7 linked regions of the Homo sapiens genome follow. The protein of the gene in region 6 interacts with the protein of the main gene of each other region in a pairwise test. Each region holds a gene or a part of one and is shown on either strand. Other genes may lie near its edges.

The links.
Region 1: the proteins of YES1 (region 6) and ZNF438 interact in binary tests that used the Homo sapiens proteins (3 or more experiments, as listed by UniProt).
Region 2: the proteins of YES1 (region 6) and GAB1 interact in binary tests that used the Homo sapiens proteins (3 or more experiments, as listed by UniProt).
Region 3: the proteins of YES1 (region 6) and MET interact in binary tests that used the Homo sapiens proteins (3 or more experiments, as listed by UniProt).
Region 4: the proteins of YES1 (region 6) and CPSF6 interact in binary tests that used the Homo sapiens proteins (3 or more experiments, as listed by UniProt).
Region 5: the proteins of YES1 (region 6) and STAP2 interact in binary tests that used the Homo sapiens proteins (3 or more experiments, as listed by UniProt).
Region 7: the proteins of YES1 (region 6) and JAKMIP1 interact in binary tests that used the Homo sapiens proteins (3 or more experiments, as listed by UniProt).

Annotation. Positions count from the first base shown.
Region 1 is NC_000010.11:30,878,366-30,881,865, reverse strand, and holds part of ZNF438 (zinc finger protein 438), read left to right. Parts: intron 1-3,500. UniProt on the Homo sapiens protein: Isoform 1 acts as a transcriptional repressor.
Region 2 is NC_000004.12:143,413,376-143,416,875, reverse strand, and holds part of GAB1 (GRB2-associated-binding protein 1), read right to left. Parts: intron 1,400-3,500; coding exon 1,105-1,399; intron 1-1,104. UniProt on the Homo sapiens protein: Adapter protein that plays a role in intracellular signaling cascades triggered by activated receptor-type kinases. Plays a role in FGFR1 signaling. Probably involved in signaling by the epidermal growth factor receptor (EGFR) and the insulin receptor (INSR).
Region 3 is NC_000007.14:116,796,537-116,798,877, forward strand, and holds the end of MET (hepatocyte growth factor receptor isoform b preproprotein), read left to right. Parts: 3' UTR 1-1,841; downstream 1,842-2,341. UniProt on the Homo sapiens protein: Receptor tyrosine kinase that transduces signals from the extracellular matrix into the cytoplasm by binding to hepatocyte growth factor/HGF ligand. Regulates many physiological processes including proliferation, scattering, morphogenesis and survival.
Region 4 is NC_000012.12:69,253,069-69,256,568, forward strand, and holds part of CPSF6 (cleavage and polyadenylation specificity factor subunit 6), read left to right. Parts: coding exon 1-86; intron 87-3,500. UniProt on the Homo sapiens protein: Component of the cleavage factor Im (CFIm) complex that functions as an activator of the pre-mRNA 3'-end cleavage and polyadenylation processing required for the maturation of pre-mRNA into functional mRNAs.
Region 5 is NC_000019.10:4,323,543-4,326,185, reverse strand, and holds the end of STAP2 (signal-transducing adaptor protein 2), read left to right. Parts: intron 1-640; coding exon 641-790; intron 791-877; coding exon 878-970; intron 971-1,518; coding exon of another isoform or gene 1,519-1,656; coding exon 1,657-1,731; intron 1,732-1,988; coding exon 1,989-2,053; 3' UTR 2,054-2,143; downstream 2,144-2,643. Other genes in the region: FSD1 (fibronectin type III and SPRY domain-containing protein 1), read right to left, coding at 2,543-2,643. UniProt on the Homo sapiens protein: Substrate of protein kinase PTK6. May play a regulatory role in the acute-phase response in systemic inflammation and may modulate STAT3 activity.
Region 6 is NC_000018.10:721,088-725,242, reverse strand, and holds the end of YES1 (tyrosine-protein kinase Yes), read left to right. Parts: intron 1-610; coding exon 611-819; 3' UTR 820-3,655; downstream 3,656-4,155. UniProt on the Homo sapiens protein: Non-receptor protein tyrosine kinase that is involved in the regulation of cell growth and survival, apoptosis, cell-cell adhesion, cytoskeleton remodeling, and differentiation.
Region 7 is NC_000004.12:6,078,550-6,082,049, reverse strand, and holds part of JAKMIP1 (janus kinase and microtubule-interacting protein 1), read left to right. Parts: intron 1-294; coding exon 295-441; intron 442-1,737; coding exon 1,738-1,878; intron 1,879-3,051; coding exon 3,052-3,111; intron 3,112-3,500. UniProt on the Homo sapiens protein: Associates with microtubules and may play a role in the microtubule-dependent transport of the GABA-B receptor. May play a role in JAK1 signaling and regulate microtubule cytoskeleton rearrangements.

The sequences.
Region 1 (3,500 bases), on a different chromosome or scaffold from region 6:
TACAGAGAAAGCATCATCCTTTGTTGAAGGGACTATTCATGTTCCACAGCTTTCCCTTTGGACTCTCATGAAAATACATATCTGTGTAGATTTATTTATGGACTCTCTATTTTGTTGCATTGATCTATATATCTCTTTCTTGAAACTAAAGTAGCATTAGTCTGATTTCTTTCTTCTTTTTTAAGAAAATTTTGATTATTCTGAGCTCTATTTTCATGTGAATTTTAAAAATTAAATTGGTTAATTTCTACAAAAAGTCTACTGGGATTTTGATTAGGATCACATTGAATTTATATATTTATTTGAAGAGAATTGCCATTTTAACAACATCGAGTCTTCCAACCTTTGAATGTGGTATATATCTCTTCATTTGTTTAGATCTTTTAAAATTTCTCTCTATGAGTGTTTTTTAGTTTTCAGTGTATAGGTCTTTCACATACTTTGCCAGGCTTATCCTTAATTATTTCATTTTTATGCTGTTATAAATGGTGTCTCAATTTCTGATTTATTGTCTCAATTTCTGATTATTTCTAGGATACAAAAATATAATTTATTTTTGCATATTGATTTTGTATTGTGTAACCTTGCTAAACTCAGTTATTAGAAGAGCTTTTTTTGTAGATTCTATTGAATTTTCTAATTAGACAATCATGTCATCTGCAGATAAAGACCATTTTAAGTCTTGCTTCACAATCTGAATACATTTTATTTATTTTTGCTCTATTGCACTGGCTAGAACTTCCAATACAGGGTTGAATAGAAGTGGTGAGAATAGATATCCTTCTCTTGTTTGTGAACTTGGAGGGAAAGCATTCAGTCTTTCATTATTTAGCATGATTTTAGCTTTAGGTTTCTCATAAGATGTGTTTCACCAGAGTGAGGAGTTCCTTTCTATTCTTAATTTATAAAGGGTTGTTTTTTTTTAATCAGTAATGGATGTTGGATTTTATCACATACAATTTTTGTGTCTGTTTAAATAATCATGTAGTTTTCTTTTATAACATTAAGATGGTAAATTGCATTTATTTTGAATGTTAAACCAGTTGTGTATTCCTGGATATCTCTACTTGGTCATGACGTATTCTCATATTGTTGGATTTGATTTACTAGTAGTTTGTTTATTACTTTTGCATCTGTGCTTATGAGGGATATTGGGACATAGGAATCTTTTCTATGTCTGGATTTGTCTGGTTTTGATATCTAGATAATCCGGCCTTTTTAGATAGTAAACATTTCCTCCTTTTCAATTTTCTGGAAGGATTTATATATAATTGGTATAATTTCCTCCTTAAATATTCAGTAGAAGTCACCAGAGAAGACATCAGGGCCTAGAGGTCTAAGAATTCTAGATTACAGTTGTTATTATTGTTTATTGTCTTCAGACTTGCATTATTTTTGTTTTTGTTTTTTTCTTTTTCTTTTTTTTTTTTTTTTTAGATAGAATTTTGCTCTTGTTGCCCAGGCTGGAGTGCAATAGCACAATCTCGGCTCACTGCAGCCTCCGCCTCCTGGGTTCAAGCGATTCTCCTGCCTCAGCCTCCCGAGTACCTGGAATTACAGGCATGCACCACCATGCCCAGCTAATTTTTGTATTTTTAGTAGAGACAGGGTTTCTCCATGTTGGTCAGGCTGGTCTCAAACTCCCAACCTGAGGTGATCTGCCCGCCTTGGTCTCCCAAAGTGCTGGGATTCCAGGTGTGAGCCTCCGCGTCCAGCCAGACTTGCATCATTTTATTAATAGTAAGAAATCTGTTGTTATCCTTATCATTGTTCCTTTATATGCAATGTGTCTTTTTCTCTGGGTGCTTTAAAAACTTTTTTTTTTCACCAGTTTTGAGCAGTTTGGCAATGATATACCTTAATATGTTTTCATGTTTCTCGTGAATCAGTGTTTTGAGATGTTTGGATCTGTGTGTTCACAGCTTCATCAAATTTGGAAAATGTTCTGCCATTCTTTCTTAAAATAATTTTTTTGCCCTTCCATCTCTCCCCTCTTCAAATACTGGTATGTTAATCTTCTTAAAGTTGGCCTGCAGCTCACTGATGCTCTCAATTCTGATTTTTGTTTTTTGTTTTTTTAATTTTACTGTCTTCTCCATTCTGTGTAGTCTCAATAGCTGTGCCTTCAGATTTGCTAATATTTTCTTCTGACGTGTCTAATGTGCCATTAATTTCATGCAGTATATTTTTCATCTTATACATTATAGTTTTTATCTCTAGAAATTTTATTTGAATTTTTTCATGTCTTTTCTACCTGTACTTAACATTTTGAGCACATGAAATCTAGTTACACACTTAATGTCCTTGTCTGCTAATTCTAATATATGTCAGTCCTGCTCAGTTTTGATTGTTTTCTAAATTATGGATCATATTTTTCTGCGTTTCTGCATGCTTGATAATTTTTATTAGATGTCAGTCATTATGAATTTTACTTTATTGGGTGGTAGATATTTTTGTATTTCTATAAATATTTTGTGATTTTTTCTGGTACATAGTTAAAATAGTTTGAAACAGTTTGATTCTTTCATGTCTTGCTTTAAGATTTACGTGAAACCAGAGAAATGCACAGTTTAGAATTAAGTATTCCCCCCTACTAAGGCAAGACCCTTCTGTGTACTCTACCCATTCCTTTGTGGATTATGAGTTTTTTTACCCTAGCTAATGGGAACAGGCAATATTCCCGTTCTTCTGTGACTGTAGTGTACCTTGGACCTTTCCCTGGTCTTGGGGTGTTTCCTCACTTGCCTGTGCTGATCATTACAAAGGTAAATAACCCAGCGAGGACCCTCTCTGTTGTGCTGTGTCTGTGTGTAGCTCTCTTTTCCAGTATTCTGGAAATCTCTGCAAGGATCTGTCCTCACATAGAGCTCATCGCAGTTGTTTCAATAGGGCTCATTGCAATTGTTTCCTGGCTCTCGGGGATCAGTTTTTCTTGACCTGATGATGCAGGATTTTTCTCGACCCCTTTGTCAGATTTGCAATGGGGGTGCCCTGTTTACTCAGCCTGCCACACTCAACCCCTTGCAGGAGGGAGCACGTGAGCAAGCGAGTGGGTTCAGGCTGGCTGCTTTGGGTGCCGGCAGGAGCAAGCTCCATGCACACCCTGTGGCGGTGCCCAGGTGGGAGTGCCTGTGATCCCCAGAATCCCAGAGGGCATGCTACAATGCCCTCTTAGCTTAGCTTTACCGTTTATGGACAGCAGTGTTATCAGCTCAGTGGGCCCCTTGTCTTGTCATGTGGGGTGTCTACACTCCACCAGCAAGGGCAAAGGGCTAGTGTGACAGCCTTTTTTGGGTACCTGCATCCAGTGGGTCCCAAGCCCTTGTGTGGTGTCCAAGAAGAACGAGGTCATGCTGACACTTGAAGGATGGTGGAGGCAGATAATTTTATTTAGCGATGGATGTCTCTCAGTGGAGAGAGGAGCTGGAAAGGGGGATGGGATGGTCAGGTAATCTTCCCTGAAGTCAGAGCGTCCCTCTGAAGTTAAGCTATCTTTCCTC
Region 2 (3,500 bases), on a different chromosome or scaffold from region 6:
TTGGCGATGACCTTGAGCAGTGGGATATAAATAACTCCCACATGCTTAGCGTTCCAATAATGGAACACTAGGCATAAATGGGATAATCTAATATAGTTTTTTGAGACGGCATCTTGCTCTGTCGCCCAGGCTGGAGTGGAATGGTGCAATTGTGGCTCACTGTAGCCTCCGCCTCCTGGGTTCAAGCGATTCTCCTGCCTCAGCCTCCTGGGTAGCTGGAACTACAGGCGTGTGCCACCATGCCTGGATAATTTTTGTATTTTTAGTAGAGATGGAATTTCACCATGTTGGCCAGGCTGGTCTTGAAGAACTCCTTACCTCAAGTGACCCATCTGCCTCAGTCTCCCAAAGTGCAGGGATTATAGGTGTGAGCCACTGTGCCCGGCCATAATCTAATATAGTTTTAAAATATATTTTTAAATAGCACCTAAAGAATTGGGTTGAGCTACATAAAAGTGCTTTTTTTTTGAGACGGAGTCTCGCTCTGTCGCCAAGGCTGGAGTGCAGTGGCGCGATCTCGGCTCACTGTAAGCTCCACCTCTCGGGTTCACACCATTCTCCTGCCTCAGCCTCTGGAGTAGCTGGGACCACAGGTGCCTGCCACCAAGCCCGGCTAATTTTTTTTTGTATTTTTAGTAGAGACAGGGTTTCACTGTGTTAGCCAGGATGGTCTTGATCTCCTGACCTCGTGATCCACCCGCCTCGGCCTCCCAGAGTGCTGGGATTGCAGGCATGAGCCACCGCGCCCGGCCAAATGTGCTATTTTTTAATAGGTGAAAAATAGTAAAATATCAACAGTGTTATATGGTTAAACTGAATATTTATATTGGAATTCAATAAATGTTCTTAAAATGTCTTCTTGTCACCTTTTACTTCAGGATATTTAAAAACTGCCCCAATATGTCTAAGTCTGTCGCTCTAAAACTGGTAAACAGCTTCTCCCCAAACTAATTAAAGGATTCAGTGCTTTTTCCAAATGTCAAGTTCCTATTATAAAAATAAAACATTATATTGTGTAACTAAAATAACAAAGAATTGTATGACATTTCTGGAAATGTAGCAGAAAAGAAGAATTCAAGTTGAATAGTAATATCTTGAACTTACCTTCTTCTGTTGGATTAAACCCACAGATGTCACAAATACAACGAACCCACTTATTCATCTCCTCCTCGCTGTCTGCTACCAAGTAGAAAATCCGGTCAATAGTGTTGATATCAAAAATGTAGCTGTTTTCAAACTCTTTTTTGTTAAATGTCAATCCAGCATCTACTTGTTGACATAAATTTAAATCAATAATACGAATAGGCTTCTTGGCATGATCATTTTTGTAATATTCCAAAACATCTGGATCTCCAGTTAAACGGCCACTGCGTAACACGAACCATCTCCTCTTCCATGCCTAGAAACAAAACAAAAATATCCATTCAGTATTAACTTGAGATAATGTTTTCAAGAAGATGCACATTTATCAAACTGATTTTACAAATGCATTGTTTAGAGAAAGTCACAATATGTGTGTGTTTGTGTGTGTGTTTTTACCACAGGATAATCTGCCACTCTGAAAAGCAACGTTTACTCATAACTCAATTAACTTAATAATGTATATATATATTCAGTATGTTCGATTAAATCTCCTACTATATAATATTGAGGCAATACATCAAGGAGGATTCAGTTTTTACTAAATATGAAAAAGTCATGGTTTCAACAAATGGTGTTAGGAAAACTAGAAATCCATACGCAAAAGAATGAAGCTGGACATTATGCTAAGTGAAATAAGCCAGTCATAAAAAGACAAATATTGTATGATTCCACTTATATGAGGTAGTTCAAGTAGTCAAATTCATACAGACAGAAAGCAGAATGGTATTTGTCAGGCCCTGCGGAGGGGGAGGGGTGGGAAATGGAGAGTTATTACAGTATTTAATGGGCCTAGAGTTTGAGTTGAAGAAGATCAAGTTCTGGAGATGATGGTGGCCATGGTTGCAATGGTGCTGTGAATGTATTAATACTTAATGCTAGTGAATTGTATATTAAAAATAGCTAAAATGATAAATTTTATGTTATGTATATTTTGCCACAATTTTTAAAAAAGCAACAGATTTTCATGCATTAATATTATGCCATAAAGAATACACATAAAGCTGCTTCTTCATAAGACTCCTACAGATTTTAAACACTTAAAAGATTTCTCTTTTTTTTAGGTGCGGTGGCAAGGAGTAGGGAGGGGGAAAGGTTTTGAAGCTTTTCTGGCTTCTTGACTGGGAAGCAATTGATTGTGTCTCTCTTTTAGCCACACAGCCTGTTGTTCAAAGACTATACGAGTAAGACCTGTATTCTTGAGTATGGGATTTAACTCTTTCTAATATTTCCCCTCCTCTTCCCAACAAACATACATGGGCAATCTGTAATACACTCACCACATACCCCCTCCACAAGTTCTGGTAAATTTTGAGTTTAATACTATACCTAGAGAAGCCTAAAAAATTATTTTACTATCACCCTCCCTAAATCTATGGTCACCAAATAATAAAAGCAGAACCAAATGACAAACAGCCTTCCTTATCAGCCTTTAACCCCAACATGTGTGCCTGGAAACAAACTTACACCTTACTCCTCTTTGAAATTCTTCCTCAGGGAGGCAGCTAGACAGAAAAGAGGCCTATTTTAGCAAGTCTCAGTCATTTACTAAGAAACATTCTCTGCTCCAGATTCAACATTCTAGGTAAGACTACCTCAAGAGGACACTCTGGGCCTGGGTGCAGTGGCTCATGCCTGTAATCCCAGCACATTGGGAGGCCGAGGTGGGCAGATCACCTGAGGTCAGGAGTTCGAGACCAGCCTGGCCAACATGGTGAAACCCCGTCTCTACTAAAAAATACAAAAATTAGCTGGGTGTGGTGGCAGGTTCCTGTAATCCCAGCTACTTAGGAGGCTGAGGCAGGAGAATCGCTTGAACCCGGAGTTGGCAGTTGCAGTGAGCTGAGATCACTGCGCTCCAGCCTGGACAGAAGAAGACTCCTCCTCAAAAAAAAAAAAAAAAAAAAAAAAGGGCAGCGGGGTGGTGGGGATGCTCTGGGAAGTGGAAGGACTCGAAAACCCCCAGTGGAATAAAACATTCCCTTTGCTACTTGTGGGAAGAAAAACAAGTATATAATTCATTATTCCTACCTTCAAAGAATTGACTAATTGTGGAAAAAAATATTTAACATACATGAAAATACTTGAGACTACAGCAACCCAGGCAAAATGTCTGCAGAGGTATTGCTACATGAACAAGCATTCCTCTACAGAAAAATTTAGGCAATCCTTTAACAAGAGGATGACCAGAGATCACAAAGGCCTAAAAACATTATATAGGTCTTTAATCATCAACATTTTAAATTAACTTCTCATTCTTCACGCAGCTCAAAGGAATAAGTATATAATTTGTGTCCAGGGAAGGCAGGGTAGAGTCCTATAGATGTTTTAGATAATATTGAAAAGTCATAAAGTGTTGG
Region 3 (2,341 bases), on a different chromosome or scaffold from region 6:
GAATTCTAGTGTTTCAAAACACTTTTGTGTGTTGTATGGTCAATAACATTTTTCATTACTGATGGTGTCATTCACCCATTAGGTAAACATTCCCTTTTAAATGTTTGTTTGTTTTTTGAGACAGGATCTCACTCTGTTGCCAGGGCTGTAGTGCAGTGGTGTGATCATAGCTCACTGCAACCTCCACCTCCCAGGCTCAAGCCTCCCGAATAGCTGGGACTACAGGCGCACACCACCATCCCCGGCTAATTTTTGTATTTTTTGTAGAGACGGGGTTTTGCCATGTTGCCAAGGCTGGTTTCAAACTCCTGGACTCAAGAAATCCACCCACCTCAGCCTCCCAAAGTGCTAGGATTACAGGCATGAGCCACTGCGCCCAGCCCTTATAAATTTTTGTATAGACATTCCTTTGGTTGGAAGAATATTTATAGGCAATACAGTCAAAGTTTCAAAATAGCATCACACAAAACATGTTTATAAATGAACAGGATGTAATGTACATAGATGACATTAAGAAAATTTGTATGAAATAATTTAGTCATCATGAAATATTTAGTTGTCATATAAAAACCCACTGTTTGAGAATGATGCTACTCTGATCTAATGAATGTGAACATGTAGATGTTTTGTGTGTATTTTTTTAAATGAAAACTCAAAATAAGACAAGTAATTTGTTGATAAATATTTTTAAAGATAACTCAGCATGTTTGTAAAGCAGGATACATTTTACTAAAAGGTTCATTGGTTCCAATCACAGCTCATAGGTAGAGCAAAGAAAGGGTGGATGGATTGAAAAGATTAGCCTCTGTCTCGGTGGCAGGTTCCCACCTCGCAAGCAATTGGAAACAAAACTTTTGGGGAGTTTTATTTTGCATTAGGGTGTGTTTTATGTTAAGCAAAACATACTTTAGAAACAAATGAAAAAGGCAATTGAAAATCCCAGCTATTTCACCTAGATGGAATAGCCACCCTGAGCAGAACTTTGTGATGCTTCATTCTGTGGAATTTTGTGCTTGCTACTGTATAGTGCATGTGGTGTAGGTTACTCTAACTGGTTTTGTCGACGTAAACATTTAAAGTGTTATATTTTTTATAAAAATGTTTATTTTTAATGATATGAGAAAAATTTTGTTAGGCCACAAAAACACTGCACTGTGAACATTTTAGAAAAGGTATGTCAGACTGGGATTAATGACAGCATGATTTTCAATGACTGTAAATTGCGATAAGGAAATGTACTGATTGCCAATACACCCCACCCTCATTACATCATCAGGACTTGAAGCCAAGGGTTAACCCAGCAAGCTACAAAGAGGGTGTGTCACACTGAAACTCAATAGTTGAGTTTGGCTGTTGTTGCAGGAAAATGATTATAACTAAAAGCTCTCTGATAGTGCAGAGACTTACCAGAAGACACAAGGAATTGTACTGAAGAGCTATTACAATCCAAATATTGCCGTTTCATAAATGTAATAAGTAATACTAATTCACAGAGTATTGTAAATGGTGGATGACAAAAGAAAATCTGCTCTGTGGAAAGAAAGAACTGTCTCTACCAGGGTCAAGAGCATGAACGCATCAATAGAAAGAACTCGGGGAAACATCCCATCAACAGGACTACACACTTGTATATACATTCTTGAGAACACTGCAATGTGAAAATCACGTTTGCTATTTATAAACTTGTCCTTAGATTAATGTGTCTGGACAGATTGTGGGAGTAAGTGATTCTTCTAAGAATTAGATACTTGTCACTGCCTATACCTGCAGCTGAACTGAATGGTACTTCGTATGTTAATAGTTGTTCTGATAAATCATGCAATTAAAGTAAAGTGATGCAACATCTTGTATACTGATAGTGGTTATTGCCAGTCATGCTTGATTACCTGCATTTGCATAATGATAGAGGAAGCCTAAGATGGATTTCACCTGGCTGCATAGAGCTCATCCATGTAGGAGAGCCTTAGTCAAGTGAATGCTGAGGAAGTAGTAAAACAGCATGCATCCCCGAATCTCAGGAAGTCTCTGTCTTTCCAAGGGTTTGGTCTAAGTTGCTGATTACCTGGATTTTTCTGACGATCTTTCAACTGCTAGAGCATCTGGTTCCTGTTTTAGCATGGTGCTCTTCTCCAGCAAGGTGTGTCCTTAGACTAGAAGACACAAAAATGGAGCAGCAGCCACACCATTGGCGCACAGATACCTAGGTGTGGGTTGGAGAGAGAGGCCTTCTTGCCCCATCAAAACTACTCTTTATCTACACAGGTGCCCACCCTTTTACCCCCAGTTACCAGAGAAATTACCTTCAGGTTATCTCCATGTATATTCTTGTAATGGTAAGGGA
Region 4 (3,500 bases), on a different chromosome or scaffold from region 6:
TTAACTGAAGCAGTTCATTCTTTGGGAGTAAATGATATTTTGGAGATAAAATTTTTTGAAAATCGGGCAAATGGCCAGTCAAAGGGGTAAGTTTTTTTTTTCTTTCTTTTTGATTTAGTAGCTAGTGATACAGTTTTTACAAGTTAACTTTCCTTTAAGTTAATGTTAATTACACATGTATACACATGTATACAAACAACACATGATTGTTTACATTGGAAGGAGGTTCTTGGGCAAAGATTGATACTTTTCATTTTACGTACCCTATTACCTAACACACTAAAACCAGTAGAGTGGAAATGTGGACAGATTTATTTTCTATTTTTCCCAAGTTTTCTCTATCTGTGGTTGAAATGGTTGTTGAAATGACAGTTTAAGAACCATTACTCTCCCTGTGATTAAGAGATGGGAGAAGATGGGCAACTGAATAATGTGTTACATGGATATTTTGCTTTATTTCACTACTAAACTATACAAGTGGGATAGCCTCAGCATGAGAACATTATAAATACAGATATCTAAAAGTAAGAAAATAAAATACCACTGTCCTACCATTCATTGATGTTTACTTTTAACATTTTAGTGAAGATTCTTTTGGGCTTTTTCCTAAAAATAAATAAATAAATAAATAATGGAATTATAATTCATGTGTTTTATATGTTTGATATAAGGAATAAAAATAAATACACATCCTCTCTAATGTCTAATTCTTTTGCATCATACCTGGTATGCTACTGTAATTTACCTTTCTTATTTTTGGTTATCGTGGTGGTTTCCACTTTTGCCTATTGTAAATAATGTTGCAGCAGACATCATTTTATATAAGTCTTTTGGTACAGATTTTGGATTTTCTTTTAAGGATAAATTGTTAGATGCACAATGATAAAGAATTTTCTTATTTCTTATATTGCTTACTTATCTTAGAAGATTATACCAATTTATACTAAACTGAGAATATTTTCAAAATATATGCAGAGTCTGAATACTTCTCACTAACTTTACTTATACCACTTGGTCAAAGCCACTATCATCTCTCACTTAAACTTTGGCAGTAGCTTCCTAACTGGAAGTATAGACTGCCCCCTACAGTCTGTACTCCACATAACAGAAGTTCTAAAAAAAAAATGACATTCTGCTCAATCTTCTCATGGTTTCCTGTCTGTCTCATTCTTTACCATTGTCTACAAGGTACTTTCTGGTCTGTTTTCCCACCACCTTTCTAACCCTATCCTACCACTCTTTTTCAGCCACATTAGTCTCTTTGCTGTTGGCCAGACCAATTCCTACCTAGGACCTTTAGCTGTTTTCTCTTCTTGGTTTACTTTTCCCCCTCAAATATCCACATGGCTTACTCTTTGACTTCATTCAGGACTCAAACTGTTTAAGAGTTTTCTTCCATGACCATCTTGTGCAAAGTAGCACCTTCCTATCCTGTTTCCTTTATTTCTGCTCTGATATATTTTACTCGTTTGTTGTCTCCTCTTCCAAGCCTTTAAGCTTAATGAGAACAGAGATTTTGTTTTGTTCTCTATTACTTCTCCAGCTCTAGAATGGTACCTTGCGTATAAGAAGTGGTGCTTAATAAATATTTGTTAAATTAATTTAGTTTTTTCTAAATGTTGTGACCCAAGATAATCCTGGTGCAAACAGCAGAACTTGTTGACTAAAATAAGAAGGATAATTTAAAAGATCATATTGAACATTAGGGGGAAAAGAGCTTAAGCTTCTTAAGCTACTAAGACCCTCCCTCCCTCAAATAATTTAGAATATCCTGTAACTATACGAATTGGTAATCATTCTGATTATTTTAAATTTGTTTTTCTTTTTGAGGTATAATTCATATGCCATAAAATGCAGGCTTTTAAATGTACAATTCAATGATAATTTATTATATTTATGAAGTTTAGCAACCATTACCACTGTCTCATTCCAGAACATTTCATCACTCCAAGAAGGAACCTTGTACCTGGTTAGCAGTCACTCCCATTTCCTCTCTTCCTATCTGCTGGCAACTGCTAACGTGCTCTGGATATGCCTGTTCTGGACATTTCATCTAAATGGAATCATAAAATACGTAGTCCTATGTGACTGGCTTTTTTCCTTAGCATAATGATTTTAAGGTTCATCCATGTTGAAGCATGCATCAGCATTTCTTTTTATGGCTGAGTAATATTCCACTACATGGATATAGCACTTTTTTCTTTTAATCTATCAGTCGATGGACGTCTAGGTTATTTCCACTTTTGGCTATTAAGGAAAATGCCCCTGTGAATATTTGTGTACCCATTTTGTGTGAACATGTATTTTCAGTTCTGTTGGATGTGTACCTAGGAATGGAATTACTGGGTTAATATAGTAACTCTATGTTTAAATGTTTGAGGAATTACCAGATTATTTGCCAGAGGCATTGTGCCATTTTATTAATACGTGCTCATCAGCAATGTGCAATGGTTCCAGTTTCTCCACATATTTATTTATTTATTTATTTATTGAGACAGAGTCTCACTCTGTCACCCAGGCTGGAGTGCAGTGGCGCAATCTTGGCTCATTGCAACTTCTGCCTCCCAGGTTCAAGCGATTCTCCTGTCTCAGCCTCCCAGCGTGGGACTACAGGCACACGCCACCATGCCTGGCTAATTTTTGAATTTTTAGTAGAGACGGGGTTTCACCATGTTGGTCAGGCTGGTCTTGAACTCCTGACCTCATGATCCTCCTGCCTTGGCCTCCCAAAGTGCTGAGATTATAGGCGTGAGCCACTGCACCCGGCCTCTCCACATCTTTAATACTTGTCTTTTTGATTATAGCCACCCTAGTGGGTATGGGGTGGTATCTTGTGGTTTTGATTTGCACTTCCCCAATAGTTAATGATATTGTACATCTTTTTATTGTAGCAAAAAGTGGAAGCAACCCAAATGTCCATGAACTGATGGATACATTTCTTTTAATGTTGTATATTTATAATGGAAAATTATTCACCCATAAAAGTAAGTGGTGATGCATGCTGTAACAGTGGATGAAGCTTGAAAACATGCTAGTTAAAGAAGGCTGGTCACAAGGGACCTCCTATTGTATGATTCCATTTAGATGAAATGTCTAGGATAGGCCAGTCCAGAGACAGAAATTAGGTTTAGTGGTTCCATAGGGTACAGGGATGGGAAGGAATGGGAGCGATGGCTAATGGATATGGAGTTTCTTTTTGGGGTGATGAAAATGTTTTAAAATTGATTATGGTGGTGGTTATAACACTGTGAAATACTAAAAACCACTGAATTATATATTTTGAATGACTGAATTCTATGGTATGTTATACAAGATGAACAAAAATGTGTACTCGTATAGTTAAGAAATATTTTTAGTTTTTAAAATTATTTATTTTTAGAGACAGGATCTCACTGTGTTGCCCAGGCTGGAGTGCAGTAGTGTGATTATAGGTTACTGTAGCCTCAAACTCCTGGGCTCAAGCAATCCTCGTGCCTCAACCTTCTAAGCAGCTGGGATTA
Region 5 (2,643 bases), on a different chromosome or scaffold from region 6:
ATGCAGATACGTCCGTGCACCGGCACAAACTCGGACACGTGTAGATACACGGGCAAAACGCACTCATGTAGACAAGGACTAAAGCAGCCACCTCAGCAGGCGTGCAGTCACACACGTATACACACCACAGGTGTGTGTGTACAAACGTTGCACTTTAACTTATCTAGATTCAATTAGTGTACACGTGTATGCCACACAAAGACTTTTTTTTTTTTTTGAGATGGAGTCTTGCTCTGTCACCCAGGCTGGAGTGCAGTGGCGCAATCTCGGCTCACTGCAACCTCTCCCTCCCAGGTTCAAGCGATTCTCCTGCCTCAGCCCCGAGTAGCTGCGATTACAGGAGCCTGCCACCACGCCAAGCTAATTTTTGTATTTTTAGTAGAGACGGGGTTTCACCATATTGGCCAGGCTGGTCTTGAACCCCTGACCTCAGGTGATCCGCCCACCCTGGCCTCCCAAAGTGCTGGGATTACAGGCGTGAGCCACCGCGCCCGGCCCAGACACAGACTTATACATGGGCACACACACAGACACACAGGGACACATGCCTGTCTCCAGGCATGCACACAGACCCCCCCGCCAACCTGCAAGGTGTCCCTGTATGACATGGGTCTTGACAGTGACCACGTTTCCCCATCAGGTCCTGCACCCTGCACAGGTGGCCCCAAGCCGCTGTCACCTGCGTCTAGCCAGGACAAGCTGCCCCCACTGCCCCCACTACCGAACCAGGAAGAGAACTACGTGACCCCCATTGGAGATGGCCCAGCTGTTGACTATGAGAACCAAGATGGTGGGTGGGGAACAGAGCTGCTGAGAGCTGGGGGTTGGGGAAACAGGTTAACAGCTGATGTGACACGTTACACTTTTGTCCACGCAGTGGCTTCCTCTAGTTGGCCAGTCATCCTGAAGCCAAAGAAGTTGCCAAAGCCTCCTGCCAAGCTTCCAAAGCCACCCGTTGGACCCAAGCCAGGTTGGGGTCCCCCCCATATCCCACCCTCACCTGATGGCAGGCCAGCCTCAGCCCTCATCTGACTTTTTTTTTTTTTTTTGAGACAGTCTCACTCTGTCGCCCAGGCTGGAGTGCAGTGGCACAACCTTGGCTCACTGCAAGCTCCGCCTCCTGGGTTCACGCCATTCTCCTGCCTCAGCCTCTCCAGTAGCTGGGACTACAGGTGCCCGCCACCATGCCCAGCTAATTTTTTTTTTTGTATTTTTAGTAGAGACGGGGTTTCACCATGTTAGCCAGGATGGTCTTGATCTCCTGACCTCGTGATCCGCCCACCTCGGCCTCCCAAAGTGCTGGGATTACAGGCGTGAGCCACCGCACCCAGCTCATCTGTCTTTATTGTTGTTTTTTGTTTTGAGATGGAGTCTCACTCTGTTGCCCAGGCAGTGGCGCGATCTCAGCTCACTGCAACCTCTGTCTGCCGGGTTCAAGTGATTCTCCTGCCTCAGCCTCCCAAGTAGCTGGGATTACAGGCACCTGCCACCACGTCCATCTAATTTTTGTATTTTTAGTAGAGAAGGGGTTTCACCATGTTGCCCAGGCTGGTCTCGAACTCCTGACCTCAAGTGATCCACCCACCTCAGCCTCCCAAAGTGCTGGGATTACCGGCGTGAGCCACCACACCTGGCCTCATCTGTCTTCTCTTCCAGAGCCCAAAGTCTTTAATGGTGGCTTGGGCAGGAAGCTGCCAGTCAGTTCAGCCCAGCCTCTCTTCCCCACAGCCGGTAAGGGGTCTGCGGGGTCAGTGCGGGGCGGGCTTCCCAGGTGTGTGACCGTACAGTCACACAAGTCCCCACACTCCGAAGCGCCCTGTCTTTTAAGGTTCTGCTGTCTCTGTCTTGAAATTCTTAATGCCTTCGAGCACACTGTCCTGTTGCACGGGGCCCTGCAAATCTGTAGCTGGTCCTGGGTGGCTGTCAGGGCGGTGGGCATGGACTGGGGATCCCTGAGCCAGCTGCAGCTCCTGGTCCTGAACCCCCAGGGCTGGCAGACATGACGGCAGAGCTACAGAAGAAGCTGGAGAAGAGGCGGGCACTGGAGCACTGATTCGGACACACCAGGGACCAGCGGGCTAGTCCCAGGGCATGGCCCAGCGGCCAGATTCTTTTTCCCAGGATTAAAACTCTGACCCCAGGACCCATGTGTCTGGCTTGGCTTGGGGGATTAGGGGACGAGGGGTCCGTCAGATGTCTGCCTACGGATGGCCCCATTTACTCCCAGTGACCCTCAGCTCAGTGAAATCTACCACCATATTCTGTGAGAAAAGCCCATTTTACAGCTGGGAAGGATGAGGTCCCGGTGCCACACCCAGGCCCAAAGAACCAGCACCGCGGCCTCGCCTGGCCAGTGTCTGACCTTTATTAAGAGGTGAGGTGGGGAGAGGGCCCGCCAGGGTGCCCACTCCCTCTTGGTGACCCCCCCATCTGGAGTTAAGGCTCCAAGCAGCAAGTGACAGAGGAGGGTGCCTGGCTCCAGCAGCCTGGGCTTGGCGGCGACTCCCCCAAAAACACCCCAGCTGGGTGGGTGCCTGGGGGCCTAGGTGAGGCTGGTGTTGGAGCTGCTGGTAGCACTGCCTCGCTTTTGCAGGCAGCGCACAGCACTGGGGACCTGCAGGCCTGTCGTCACCTGGAAGCTGC
Region 6 (4,155 bases):
AGGAGGCATTTTGCTGTCCTGTGATAAGATGGGGTGAACTGCTGATCAGGGGGTTGAGGAAGGGGGGATTACAAAGGAATACAAGAAAGGAACTATGTGTAATATCTTGAAGAAAGTCAAACAGGTAATATTAGATAAGGAAACTTTCACAGAAGTAATTCAATATAAAGTTATGTAGTTGGTATATTTGGCAAAACCAAGACTAGAACTTTCTTCTGAATTCCTGTTTTAAAGTTCTTTCAGACAGGATCTTGCCACCATTCCTCAGTAACCCAAGTTTGGTCATTGTTAAATGTTAATATTAGAAAGTACCAGTACCTCATAGTAGCACCCTAAATTCTTATTAATCAAATGGGGTTGGCTTTTGAAGACATTAGTATTAAAAATAAGATATAAGATGGAATGAAAAATTAGACATGTTAAAACATAGATTAGCATTTTCTAAGCTCTTCTTGATATTCTCATGTTTAAAATTTATTTTGTTGCTTTGTTAAAAGAATTGTTTCACTAAATAATATACTTTGAATGAGTTAGTGGCTAGGGGGTTTGTTATGTTTTCCTAGTGGTAGTTAGGACCATTGTTCTTTAATGTTTTAATCTTGTGTATTAGGTATGGTGAACCGTGAAGTATTAGAACAAGTGGAGCGAGGATACAGGATGCCGTGCCCTCAGGGCTGTCCAGAATCCCTCCATGAATTGATGAATCTGTGTTGGAAGAAGGACCCTGATGAAAGACCAACATTTGAATATATTCAGTCCTTCTTGGAAGACTACTTCACTGCTACAGAGCCACAGTACCAGCCAGGAGAAAATTTATAATTCAAGTAGCCTATTTTATATGCACAAATCTGCCAAAATATAAAGAACTTGTGTAGATTTTCTACAGGAATCAAAAGAAGAAAATCTTCTTTACTCTGCATGTTTTTAATGGTAAACTGGAATCCCAGATATGGTTGCACAAAACCACTTTTTTTTCCCCAAGTATTAAACTCTAATGTACCAATGATGAATTTATCAGCGTATTTCAGGGTCCAAACAAAATAGAGCTAAGATACTGATGACAGTGTGGGTGACAGCATGGTAATGAAGGACAGTGAGGCTCCTGCTTATTTATAAATCATTTCCTTTCTTTTTTTCCCCAAAGTCAGAATTGCTCAAAGAAAATTATTTATTGTTACAGATAAAACTTGAGAGATAAAAAGCTATACCATAATAAAATCTAAAATTAAGGAATATCATGGGACCAAATAATTCCATTCCAGTTTTTTAAAGTTTCTTGCATTTATTATTCTCAAAAGTTTTTTCTAAGTTAAACAGTCAGTATGCAATCTTAATATATGCTTTCTTTTGCATGGACATGGGCCAGGTTTTTCAAAAGGAATATAAACAGGATCTCAAACTTGATTAAATGTTAGACCACAGAAGTGGAATTTGAAAGTATAATGCAGTACATTAATATTCATGTTCATGGAACTGAAAGAATAAGAACTTTTTCACTTCAGTCCTTTTCTGAAGAGTTTGACTTAGAATAATGAAGGTAACTAGAAAGTGAGTTAATCTTGTATGAGGTTGCATTGATTTTTTAAGGCAATATATAATTGAAACTACTGTCCAATCAAAGGGGAAATGTTTTGATCTTTAGATAGCATGCAAAGTAAGACCCAGCATTTTAAAAGCCCTTTTTAAAAACTAGACTTCGTACTGTGAGTATTGCTTATATGTCCTTATGGGGATGGGTGCCACAAATAGAAAATATGACCAGATCAGGGACTTGAATGCACTTTTGCTCATGGTGAATATAGATGAACAGAGAGGAAAATGTATTTAAAAGAAATACGAGAAAAGAAAGTGAAAGTTTTACAAGTTAGAGGGATGGAAGGTAATGTTTAATGTTGATGTCATGGAGTGACAGAATGGCTTTGCTGGCACTCAGAGCTCCTCACTTAGCTATATTCTGAGACTTTGAAGAGTTATAAAGTATAACTATAAAACTAATTTTTCTTACACACTAAATGGGTATTTGTTCAAAATAATGAAGTTATGGCTTCACATTCATTGCAGTGGGATATGGTTTTTATGTAAAACATTTTTAGAACTCCAGTTTTCAAATCATGTTTGAATCTACATTCACTTTTTTTTGTTTTCTTTTTTGAGACGGAGTCTCGCTCTGTCGCCCAGGCTGGAGTGCAGTGGCGCGATCTCGGCTCACTGCAAGCTCTGCCTCCCAGGTTCACACCATTCTCCTGCCTCAGCCTCCCGAGTAGCTGGGACTACAGGTGCCCACCACCACGCCTGGCTAGTTTTTTGTATTTTTAGTAGAGACGCAGTTTCACCGTGTTAGCCAGGATAGTCTCGATCTCCTGACCTTGTGATCTGCCCGCCTCGGCCTCCCAAAGTGCTGGGATTACAGGCGTGAGCCACCGCGCCCAGCCTACATTCACTTCTAAAGTCTATGTAATGGTGGTCATTTTTTCCCTTTTAGAATACATTAAATGGTTGATTTGGGGAGGAAAACTTATTCTGAATATTAACGGTGGTGAAAAGGGGACAGTTTTTACCCTAAAGTGCAAAAGTGAAACATACAAAATAAGACTAATTTTTAAGAGTAACTCAGTAATTTCAAAATACAGATTTGAATAGCAGCATTAGTGGTTTGAGTGTCTAGCAAAGGAAAAATTGATGAATAAAATGAAGGTCTGGTGTATATGTTTTAAAATACTCTCATATAGTCACACTTTAAATTAAGCCTTATATTAGGCCCCTCTATTTTCAGGATATAATTCTTAACTATCATTATTTACCTGATTTTAATCATCAGATTCGAAATTCTGTGCCATGGCATATATGTTCAAATTCAAACCATTTTTAAAATGTGAAGATGGACTTCATGCAAGTTGGCAGTGGTTCTGGTACTAAAAATTGTGGTTGTTTTTTCTGTTTACGTAACCTGCTTAGTATTGACACTCTCTACCAAGAGGGTCTTCCTAAGAAGAGTGCTGTCATTATTTCCTCTTATCAACAACTTGTGACATGAGATTTTTTAAGGGCTTTATGTGAACTATGATATTGTAATTTTTCTAAGCATATTCAAAAGGGTGACAAAATTACGTTTATGTACTAAATCTAATCAGGAAAGTAAGGCAGGAAAAGTTGATGGTATTCATTAGGTTTTAACTGAATGGAGCAGTTCCTTATATAATAACAATTGTATAGTAGGGATAAAACACTAACTTAATGTGTATTCATTTTAAATTGTTCTGTATTTTTAAATTGCCAAGAAAAACAACTTTGTAAATTTGGAGATATTTTCCAACAGCTTTTCGTCTTCAGTGTCTTAATGTGGAAGTTAACCCTTACCAAAAAAGGAAGTTGGCAAAAACAGCCTTCTAGCACACTTTTTTAAATGAATAATGGTAGCCTAAACTTAATATTTTTATAAAGTATTGTAATATTGTTTTGTGGATAATTGAAATAAAAAGTTCTCATTGAATGCACCTATTAATCGTTTTAGTTGCTATTCATATTCTCATTCGTTTTTTAAAAACTGATATATTCTGAATTTATTCTTCCATTGAGAAAAAAATGTTCAGTTACTTGTAACTACTGAGCAGAATTTAATCAATCCTTTATTAAATTCAGAACATTATTGAACTCATTCTTTGTGGTCAATTTTCTTTTTTTTTTGTTTTGTTTTGTTTTTTTTTTGAGACGGAGTCTCGCTCTGTCGCCCAGGCTGGAGTGCAGTGGCGCGATCTTGGCTCACTGCAAGCTCCGCCTCCCGGGGTCACGCCATTCTCCTGCCTCGGCCACCCGAGTAGCTGGGACTACAGGCGCCTGCTACCACGCCCGGCTAATTTTTTGTATTTTTTAGTAGAGACGGGGTTTCACCATGTTAGCCAGGATGGTCTCGATCTCCTGACCTCGTGATCCGTCCGCTTCGGCCTCCCAAAGTGCTGGGATTACAGGCGTGAGCCACCGCGCCCGGCCTGTGGTCAATTTTCTATGTCAAGTGAGTGACATTATTTTTACAAGTATTTTCTTCTTCTTAAAATTATACCAGCAAATACAGTTAATGCAGAAACCTAAGTAATTTGAGTGTAGCTATTCACAATCTATGTGAAGAATATAAAATAGAATGACCAGTTTTATTATAAA
Region 7 (3,500 bases), on a different chromosome or scaffold from region 6:
ATTTAAGTTGTTTCTAATTCTTTCCATGAAAATAACACTGGGAGACTACCACTATGCATTCAATTCTCACCATGTGCCTAGGAGACAGGAGCTGCCGTGATTCTCATTTGATAGATGAGGAAACTGAGGCTGAGAACTTGCCCATTGTCATGCAACTAGCAAACAAATGTGTCATCCAGGACACTGGCCTCAGAAGGGGTCCTAACTGGGTTGAGTCTCTGCTCACCTCGGTGCTGTGACCTCGGCCGTCCGTCGTCAAGTTGTCTGAGCCTCTGTGTCTGTTTCCAACCACAGCTGAAACGCTCACGAGAGACCGAGGTTCAGCTGAAGCCCCTGGTGGAGAAGAACAAGCGGATGAACAAGAAGAATGAGGATCTGTTGCAGAGTATCCAGAGGATGGAGGAGAAAATCAAGAACCTCACGCGGGAAAACGTGGAAATGGTGAGCTGTGGACCCCTTGGGGACAGCCCTGACACTCCCTTCTCTGTCTGGGATTCTTCAGCCCTGAACCTCCCGATTCACATGTTCTGGGGCGCACCTGCTGCCCACCTCCCCACAAAGCACCAGGCACAGTGTCAGTCACAGATGTCTCGCCTTTCTCTCCACCTGTCTCACATTCACTGTGCTGTGGGTGTTTGTGCCCAGAGGGAGTCAGACAGCTGTGTCCTTAAACACATCCCCCATTCTCTCTGAGCCTCTGTTTCTTCATGCATAAAATGGGAATGAAAATATCCACACTGGAGGATCATCAAGAGGATGAAATAACAGCATGTAAAGACCTCACAGGGAACGGGCCCAGAGGACACCCAGCAAGTGAAAGCTGTTACAATGATCGCTGGCGATGCTCTGCAGAGGGGTTTCTCCTCCAGCTAGGATGCCTGGTGTTTGTGGTCAGGGCAGGCGTCTTGTAGTTGACAGTTTACAGAATGATTTCAGGTTCATTGTTCAGAGTAGTATCAACCCCCACTTCACAGCCGGGAAGACGGAGGCTCTGTCACCACACATGCTCTGCTGTCTGCACTGTAGCAGATGCAGGTGTGTGTGTGTGTGTGTGTGTGTGTGTGTAATTGCTGTTGTGTGAAGTCCTCTCCTTCCCCTGCCTTCCCCTCCCAGGTTTCTAGGCTCATTTCAAATGTCGTCTTCCACCCCCAGGCCCTGCGCATCCCTTCCTGTCAGCAGTGTGCATGGTCAGCCCCACCTTGGGCTTGGCTTTGGTCTGCCCTGTCCCCTCTTCCAGCACAGGACAAGGTGGCCACGTATTAGTCCATTTTCACACTGCTGATAAAGGCATACCTGAGACTGGGTAATTTGTAAAGAAAAAGAGGTTTAATGGACTCACAGTTTCACGTGGCTGGGGAGGCCTCACAATCATGGCAGAAAGCTAAAGGCACATCTTACTTGGCGGCAGACAAGACAGACTGAGAGCCAAGTAAAAGGGGAAAACCCTTATAAAAACATCAGAGACTTATTCACAACCACGAGAATAGTATGAGAGAAACCGCCACCATGATTCAATGATCTCCCACCTGGCCCCTCCCACAACACACGGGAGTTCTGGGAGCCGCAATTCAAGATGAGATTTGGGTGGGGACACAGCCAAACCATATCAGGCCATCATCTCTTTCATCCTCCCATCCATCCTTCTGTCCCTGCACCCCTGAGCTCCACTCCAGCACTGTCCCTAACAAACACTGTTGGCGGGTAACCCTGTGGTGGTCTGTCTCCCTGTGGCTGCAGAAAGAAAAGCTGTCAGCGCAGGCGTCTCTGAAGCGGCATACCTCCTTGAATGACCTCAGCCTGACGAGGGATGAGCAGGAGATCGAGTTCCTGAGGCTGCAGGTGCTGGAGCAGCAGCACGTCATTGACGACCTCTCACTGGTACATCTAGCACAGCTGGCGCGGCTGCCCCTGGCAGGGGTGGCACCAGCTGACATGGGTGTCAGGAACGGGTGTTGGGGCTCAGGGTGATGCTGCTGAGCTGGGTCAGGGTCAGGCAGTGCTGACTTTGGGACTCACCAAGCTCACCCTGGTGTGCACATTCCCGCTTCATTCTGCCACTAAGCAGCCTTGGCTTAAATGAGATCACTGGTACTTGGGGACAGTTTCCATGGCTACCCTTTTCTCACATCTTCTCCCTAGCTTGCTGTGATTGAGAAGCATCAGTTTTAAGGATGTCTTTTGGCCTTTAGAGACTGGGCATGATCTGTTCCAGAGAAGGCTTTTTGTTTGTTTGGTTGGTTGGTTGGTTGGTTTTTAGCTTAGCAGTTGCAGACTGTGAGTTTAGGCCCACAAACTTGAACCTTATAACCAGACCAGCACCTTGCTAAGACTGCCTGTGTGAGTTTTGGACGTGTATATGGGGCGTGCATCTATCAAAGGGGGTTGAGTATGTCCTAAGCGGTGGAGAATTGCATCCAGAGAATTCCACAGCTCTCTGTGAAAGGAACTTCGGCAACAGGCAGAGAACACCTGCAGGGAGCTTTAGTTGGATCTTAGAAGTAGAACGTGTTCTGCTCACCAAAGTGGGTGTGTGATGGTTCCATGCACTGGTTTTCAAAGAATAGAAAAGCTAGTGATCAAAATTCTAGAAAAGGCTTTGATTATAATTTTCATGTTCATTTTGCCTGCCTCCATCTCCCTCTACCTCTTTAACTTCTCTCTTTCTTCCTTTCACCCATCCATCCATCCATCCATCCACCCACCCATCTGTCCACCCATCCATCCATCCACTCACCCATTCTTTCATCCTTCCATCCACTTATCTATGCATACATCTATCTATCCATCCATCTTTGCTTCATTACACAAAAGACTCAATGCAGCTTAGGATGAAAAATATATTTCAGTGAAATAACAATAAAGTCAAAAGGTGGATAATAAACTCTCCCTGTAGCTCTCAGTTCAGAGAAGCAGCCATCACTTGGGCACTTAGAACTTCAACTAGCCATGCCTGGTGCGGATGGGCAGGCCCAGCTCCCTTTGAGAGCCAGTGGCTTTGGTTTGTGAGATGTGAGGCTGGCTGGAAATGCCAACCGTTGTGTTTCCTTCTAGGAGAGAGAACGGCTGTTGCGCTCCAAAAGGCATCGAGGGAAAAGTCTGAAACCGCCCAAGGTGAGCCTGCGATGGTGCACCTGCCCTACCTTGCCGCTGTGTCACGGATCTGCAGGGCAGATGGGTCGTGGAGTGGGGAGGTTTTACAGAGGGGTCCTGAAGCAGACACACACATCTCTGCATGCCTGATGATGAAAAGCCTGTCATCACCGTCTCTCAAAGCAACATAAATATGGCCGTGTCATGTGACCCAGTTATTGTAATTTATTCATGGAAAACTTCCTGATGTATTCTCCACTTAGGCTTCAGGGTATATTCACCCAAAATTAAAAACATAAATACTTAAACCTTTTGAAGGATTTAAGGGACATTCAGGGTTGGTTTATATGAGAGCATATCCTGTTCTAAAAAAATCAGGAGCTTTGTGTTTTTTTGGAATCATGCAGAAC